Homo sapiens: one gene and its partner. The protein of the gene in region 2 purifies or fractionates together with the protein of the main gene of each other region. This does not show direct contact. Each region holds a gene or a part of one and is shown on either strand. Other genes may lie near its edges. The genes, in order: MAP4K1 and HCLS1.

Evidence for each region.
Region 1: the proteins of HCLS1 (region 2) and MAP4K1 purify together in Homo sapiens (affinity purification with western blotting, with the first as the bait; one study listed by BioGRID). This does not show direct contact.

The regions. Positions count from the first base shown.
Region 1 is NC_000019.10:38,587,033-38,590,762, forward strand, and holds the end of MAP4K1 (mitogen-activated protein kinase kinase kinase kinase 1), read right to left. Parts: intron 2,244-3,730; coding exon of another isoform or gene 2,146-2,243; intron 786-2,145; coding exon 716-785; 3' UTR 609-715; downstream 1-608. Other genes in the region: RYR1 (ryanodine receptor 1), read left to right, coding at 293-388. UniProt on the Homo sapiens protein: Serine/threonine-protein kinase, which plays a role in the response to environmental stress. Appears to act upstream of the JUN N-terminal pathway.
Region 2 is NC_000003.12:121,650,820-121,654,642, reverse strand, and holds part of HCLS1 (hematopoietic lineage cell-specific protein), read left to right. Parts: intron 1-3,823. UniProt on the Homo sapiens protein: Substrate of the antigen receptor-coupled tyrosine kinase. Plays a role in antigen receptor signaling for both clonal expansion and deletion in lymphoid cells. May also be involved in the regulation of gene expression.

The DNA of each region.
Region 1 (3,730 bases), on a different chromosome or scaffold from region 2:
CCACAGCGGGAGAATTGCTTGAGACCAGAAGTTCAAGACAGCCTAGGAACACAGCGAGACCCTTTCTCTATTAAAAAATTAGCCAGGGGTGGTGGTGTGCACCTGTAGTCCCAGCTACTCTGGAGACTGAGGTGGAGAATCGCTTGAGCCAGGAGGCTGTAGTGAGCTGTGATTGTCGCCACTGCACTCCAGCCTGGGCAACAGAGCAACACCCTGTCTAAAAATATATATATATATATGTCTCAAGGGTTTGAAGATGTGACCAATGAACTCTTTCTATCCCCAATCCTAGGAGTCTTATGTCTGGAAGATGTACCAAGAGAGATGTTGGGATTTCTTCCCAGCTGGTGATTGTTTCCGTAAGCAGTATGAGGACCAGCTTAGCTGACACACCCCCAGCTGGCCCTCCACCCCCACCTCAAGTGCCTTATTCTCACAGCAAGCCCCTTAGTCCCCAAGCCCCTCCCCCTAAGGCAGCTGGGGGAGAGGTGACCTAGTACTGGAAAATAAATCTGTGCTACGCCCCCCAGCATCACTGTGTTGGCCTGCTGAAATTTTGGAGGAGTGGACATCCAGGAATTGTTTCCCCCAAGAAAAACAAGATGACAGCAGAGGCTAAAGTCATGTTTATTGGGAGATGAGGACATGCCATGACCACTAGTGTGTCTATGGGGGAGGGGGTGCAAGGACTAGTTCCTGACACCCCCCTAGGGACTCATTCCTGGATGTAGAGGTTGCTGGGAGCAGTAGGATCATCCACTGGGCGTGTCTCCACCACTACAGGCCTGTGGAAGGAAGAGATAAGTCAGTTCATTTATTCATTCATATGTTCATTGATTCATTAATTCACAAAGTAGTTAATAGAGACTGTGCCAGCCCCATGCTGAACTATAGCAGTGAATGGGCAGACACGGTCCCTGCCCTTAGGAAGCTTGCATTCTAGAGAAGGAGATCAACATGAATCAGTGAATTACATGAGTGCAAAAAAGCATGGCATGTCTGGCAGGGAAACCTAACCCAGGAGGTCAGCCCAGACTCCCCAGAGAATGGATGGTGCAGCCTGAAGGGGGGTTAGGAGGGAACTTGGTGAAAGGGCAAGGAAGAGTGTTCTGGCTGGGGAGAACAGCCTGTGCAAAGGATTTGAGGTGGGAGAAAGGCTGGGACTTGGCTGGAGATGTCATGGCCTTGTGGGCTGTGGCCAGGATTGAGTCTTTATCTTGAGGCCATGGGAGGATTTTAAGCAGGGAGACAGTGACACGATCAGATTTGGATTTAAAGTGACCCTTCTGGCATGTCAAAAGGACACAGGGGCTACTTAAAGTGGTTCCCACTGGCTAAATTTAAGACCATTTGTGCCTCAAAATAAATAATGACAAGGCCGGGCATGGTGGCTCATGCTTGTAATCCCAGCACTTTGGGAGGCCAAGGGGGGCAGATCACTTGAGGTCAGGAGTTCAAGACCAGCCTGGCCAATATGGTGAATCCCATCTCTACTAAAACTACAAAAATTATCCAGGTCCATCCTGGCTAACACGGTGAAACCCCATCTCTACTAAAAATACAAAAAAAAATTAGCCAGGTGTGGTGGCAGGCACTATAGTCCCAGCTACTCGGGAGGCTGAGGCAGGAGAATGGCGTGAACCTGGGAGCCAGAGCTTGCAGTGAGCCGAGATAGCGCCAGTGCACTCCAGCCTGGGCGACAGAGCGAGCCTCTGTCTCAAAAAAAAAAAAAAAAATTTATCCAGGCATGGTGGTGCACGCCTGTAATCCCAGCTATTCGGGAGGCTGAGGCAGGAGGATCGATTGAACCTGGGAGGCAGAGGTTGCAGTGAGCTGAGATCACACCACTGCACTCCAGCCTGGGTGACAGAGCGAGACTCCATCTCATAAATAAATAAATAAATAATGACAGTAATAGACTATAACCCACAGAATAAAAATCCATGAGACCATGCTGGTATAAAGAAAGAAGAATGGAGAAGACACAGCTCTTCTTTAGAGTAGAATGCCAACTAACACACGCAGAAGGAAACATAGAATCAGAAAATCACCATTTATTGTTAGTAGCCACCTAACAATAATAGATTCAGGGAAAAATCAATTGATTCTAAAACTAGTGGGCAGGCCAGGTGCGTTGGCTCAAACCTGTAATCCCAGCTACTCGGGAGGCTGAGGCAGGAGAATTGCTTGAACCTGGGAGGAGGAGGTTGCAGTGAGGCGAGATCGTGCCACTGCACTCCAGCCTGGGGGACAGAGTGAGACTCTGACTCAAAACAACAACAAAAGACAAACAAAAAACAATAAAACTAGTGGGTGAAAATCTGATGAGAAACAACGTATTTACAGACTATTTACCTCGTCTCAGTGAATCTCCCCAAAAGATACTTCTTTTTTTTTTTTTGAGACAGAGTTCACTCTTGTTGCCCAGGCTGGAGTGCAATGGCGCGATCTCGGCTCACTGCAACCTCCGCCTCCCGGGTTCAAGCGCTTCTCCTGCCTCAGCCTCCCGAGTAGCTGGGATTACAGGCATGCAACACCATGCCCGGCTAATTTTGTATTTTTAGTAGAGACAGGGTTTCTCCACATTGGTCAGGCTGGTCTCAAACTCCCGACCTCAGGTGATCCACCTGCCTCGGCCTCCCAAAGTGCTGGGATTACAGGCGTGAGCCACCGCGCCCGACCGGTGGGATACTTCTTATTACAAAGAAAAACAGAGGCTGGGTGCGGTGACCCCTGCCTATAAGCCCAGCACTTTGGGAAGCCTACACAGGTGAATCTCTTGAGTCCAGGAGTTCCAGACCAGGCTAAGTAACATGGCGAAACCCTGTCTGTACAAAAAATACGAAAATAAGCCAGGTGTAGTGGTACGCGCCTGTCATCCCAGCTACCCGGGAGGTTGAGGTGGGAGGACTGATTGAACCCAGGAGGTCGAGGCTGCAGTGAGCCATGATCGCGTCACTGCACTCCAGCCAGGGTGACAGAGAGAGAATCTATCTTTAAAAAAAAAGAAAAAGGGAGAAAAAAGCAACTTCACAGTGGAGAGAACTGGCTGATTCTACCTTAACCAAATGACCGAAGTTAATATCACCAGTAATGGGACAAACTAGCATTGTGTACTTCCTGAAATGATGCACTGAGAAAGACATCTTTCTGCAGTATTCCTGCCCAAAATTCAGAACGTGGAAACCTCAAACACAGTTAAGGGACATTTTAGAAAACAAATTTCCTTTAATTTTTAAAAAGGTCAAAGCTCCTTTAAGACAAAAGAAGTTTTAATTATTTTTTCCGGCTTAATTATAAAGAAACATGGCTCCTAAGTGCCACCTATGATCTTGGACCAGAAAAAAAAAAAAAAAAAAAAAATATATATATATATATATATATATATATATATATATATATATAATCACGGGCGTCACTAGGACAACGGGTGAAATTTTTTGTTGTTGTTGTTGTTGTTTTCTGAGACAGAGTCTCGCTCTGTCACCCAGGCTGGAGTGCAGTGGCGTAATCTCGGCTCACTGCAACCTCCACCTCTCCGATTCAAGTGATTCTCCTGCCTCAGCCTCCCAGCTGGGATTACAGGCACGTGCCACCACACCCAGCTAATTTTTGTATTTTTACTAGAGGTGGGGTTTCTCCATGTTGGCCAGGCCCATCTCCAACTCCTGACCTCAGGTAATCTGCCCACTTCAGCCTCCCAAAGTGCTGGGATGACAGGCGTGAGCCA
Region 2 (3,823 bases):
TAGGTCTGTCTTGAATAAATTTAGTTTGGATAGTAATTTGGTAATTCAGTGAATAATTCAAATGGTCCTATGCATCCCTTATCCATTCTGTAAAGGAACTGCCTGGTTTTCAAGAACTATCACCCTTCTCTCCACCTTCTTTTCTCCACTCTTGCCCATTCATTCTCAAGACTCAAGGGTGTCTTTTCCCTTGACCTGTTTGTTTATTTTCAAATCTGTCACAGACTGATACTTTTGTAAAATAAAATACAATTAAGTTTCTGGAAAAATAAATGGTTAAAAATAACATAGACAATACAAACACAGTTTTTATTTTTAAATTCAACAGATATAAAATCACGATGTTGTCAGGCATGCTAGTCTGTGCCTATAGACCCAACTACTCAGGAGGCTGAGGCAGGAGGATCACTTGAGTCCAGTAGTTCTGGGCTATAGTGCTCTATGCTGATTGGGTCTCCACGCTGAATTCTGAATCAATATAGTGACCTCCCACCTCCCAGGAGCAGGGGACCATAGGTTGCCTAAGAAGGGGTGAACTTGCCCAGGTCAGAAATGGAGCAGGTCAAAACTCCAGTGCTGATCAGTAGTGGGATTGTGTCTGTGAGTAGCCACTGTACTCCAGCCTGGGCAACAGTGAGACCCCATTTCTAAAAAAGAAAAAGAAAAAGAATAAAATCACTATGTCAAATTGCTATAAAAGTTTCTAAACACATATTCTCAATTTTTATTCTTATTTCCCTGTGAAACAGAAACAGTTCAGCTTGTGGACCACACACTGAGTGGCACTGCTCTGGAATAATCTTTCAGCACTTCCTGGAACCAGTCTGGCCTTTAGATTAAATCTTTACTGAGCTATAACCATAGGATGTCTGCCTCAGTGGCCCTGTCCTCTTCTCGTGCCCTGACATTTTATAGCAAGTGGAAATAAAGAATGGTGTAATGCCAAGAGTATAGAAATAGAATTCTGGAGCTCTAGGGACTGATTCCAGCTCTGCTGTAAAAAGGCTTATGATGCTGAGGAGAGTAATAATATTTTACCATCCTATCTTGATTTCCAGCGCTGACTGGAGATTATAGTACCATCCCTGTTTACCTCACAGGGGTACTGGGAAGAGCCATGGCTATAACTTAAGAATAATGACTAACATTTATTAAGCTATTATATGTCTTGCAAAACACAGAGTACTTTTTAAAAACAATCCTATATCATAGATGACGTTGGCATCCTGATTTCACAGAAAAGTGAATGGATATATTAATGTTTAGCAATTTGTCCGAGGATACAGAGATACAGGTTGAGCATCCCTAATCCAAAAATTCAAAATCTAAAATGTTCCAAAATCTGAAATTTTTGAAAGCCCACATGATACCACAAGTAGAAAATTCCACACCTGACTACATGTGATGGGTCTCAGTCAAAATACAGGTGCACAACAGTTTTTTCAGCGTCCCCAAGGGAAAAATAAAGTTACCTTCATTTATTTAGTTCTTCTTTAATACCTTCCTTAATATAGTGTATATGACACATAAATGAATTTCCTGTTTACACATGGGTCTCGTCCCCAAGATATCTCATTATGTATATGCAAATATTCCAAAACCTGAAAAAATCCTGAATCCAAAACACTTCTGGTCCCAAGCGTTTGGGATGAGGGATAGTCAACCTGTAGTAATTTGAATTCGGCTCAGTCTGACTCCATGGGCTGAAATCTTAACCAATATATTGTTTTTGTCTAATAAACATAATATCGTCATGTCCGTAATTCTTTTGTTGAAATGAAATGCAAATTCCCATGAACTAAGCTATTGCCAATTCCCTAAGGCTGCTTGCTATTCTGTTTACAGTGACAAAGTACTTGATAAGTTGGCCTTAATAATACTACAATCACTTCATAAACAAACCTCTTTATGAGTGCCCAAAGTCTCTTTCATTTAAGGTTTTCTTCACTTTATTATTTTTCAAAAATTAACTTTGTTTTTTTTGAGACGGAGTTTCGCTCTGTCATCCAGGCTGGAGTGCAGTGGTACGATCTCGGCTCACTGAAACCTCCGCCTCTGCCTCCCAGCTTCAAGTGATTCTCCTACCTCAGCTTCCCGAGTAGCTGGGATTACAGGCATGTGCCACCTTGCCCAGCTAATTTGTGTATTTTTAGTAGAGACGGGGTTTAACCATGTTGGCCAGACTGGTCTTGAACTCCTGACCTCAAGTGATCCGCCTGCCTCGGCCTCCTACAGTGCTGGGATTACAGGTGTAAGCCACCATTGCCCAGGCAAAAATTAAATTTATTGATACCTAATCATTATAAGCAAATAGTTCAATGAGTTTTGACTATATATATATAATATAACCACCAATGCAATCAAGATATAGAATATATCTATTACCATGAAAATTTCCCTGCACCTCTTTGCAGTCAATACACCCCATACTGATCTTTTTGTCACTATAGATTAGTTTTGTCTGGCATAGAATTTCATGCAAACAGAATAATATAGAATGTATTGTTTTGTGTTGTCTTCTTTCAGCATAATGTTTTCCAGATTTATCCATGGTGTTGTGTATATAAGTCTTTTGTTCTTTTATATTGTCATGTAGTGTCCCATTGTATGGATATGTCACAGTTTTATTATTCATTATCCTGTCAATAGCCATTTGGATTATTGACAATTTGGATCTATTACAAATGAAACTGTCATGGGCATTTGGGTACAAATCTTTTTGTTGACATATCCTTATTTCTCTTGGAAAATTGCCAGGAGTAGAATTGCTGAGTCATATAATAAGTGTATGTTAAACATTTTGAGAGACTCTCAAACTCTTTTCCAAAGGGAATTTACCCTCTTTCATTCCTACCAGTAATGTGTGGGTTTCAGATGCTCCACATTTTTGTCAACATTTGTTATTGTTAGTATTTTTAAATTTAGCTGGGTGCAGTGGCTCATGCCTGTAATCCCAGCACTTTAGGAGGCCAAGGCAGGAGGATGACTTGAGCCCAGGAGTTCAAGACCATCTGGACAATGTGGAGAGATTCAGAGTCTACAAAAAAATTAAAAATTGGCTGGCTGTGGTCTGAGCTATTCAGGAGGCTGAGGCAGGAGAAGCACTTGAGCCCAGGGGGTTGAGGCTGCAGTGAGCCATGTTTGCCCCACTGCACTCCAGCCTGGGTGACAGACTGAGATCCTCTCTAAAAGACAAACAAAACAAAACAACAACAACAACAACAAAACCAACTTAACCACTCTTTTAAGTTAATTTGAATTTCTCTGATGACCAGTTTTATTGAGTATATTTTCATTTGCCATTCATATATCTTCATATATCTTCTTTATGAAGTATCTGTTCACATCTTTTTCTCACTTTTAAAGTGAGTTGTTTGTCTTTTTATTAAGTTGCTGAAAGTTCTTTATATATTCTGGATGTAAGTCTTTTGTGAAATATGTGTTTTACAAGTGTATTCTCCCAGAACATAACTTGCTTTTTCACTTTATTGATTGATTGATTGATTATTTATTGATTGATTGCTCTGTTGCCCAGGCTGGAGTGCAGTGACATGATCTCAGCTCACTGCAACCTCTGCCTCCTGGGTTCAAGCGATTCTGCTGCTTCAGCCTCCTGAGTAGCTGGGACTCAGGCGCCCACCACCAAGCCCAGCTAATTTTTGTATTTTTGGTAGAGACGGGGTTTCACCATAGTGGCTAGGCTGGTCTTGAGCTCCTGACCTTGTGATCCACCCGCCTTGACCTCCCAAAGTGCTGAGATTACAGGCGTGAGCCACCACACCTGGCCACTTTTTCATTTTATTAATGGCATCTTTTTAAGAGC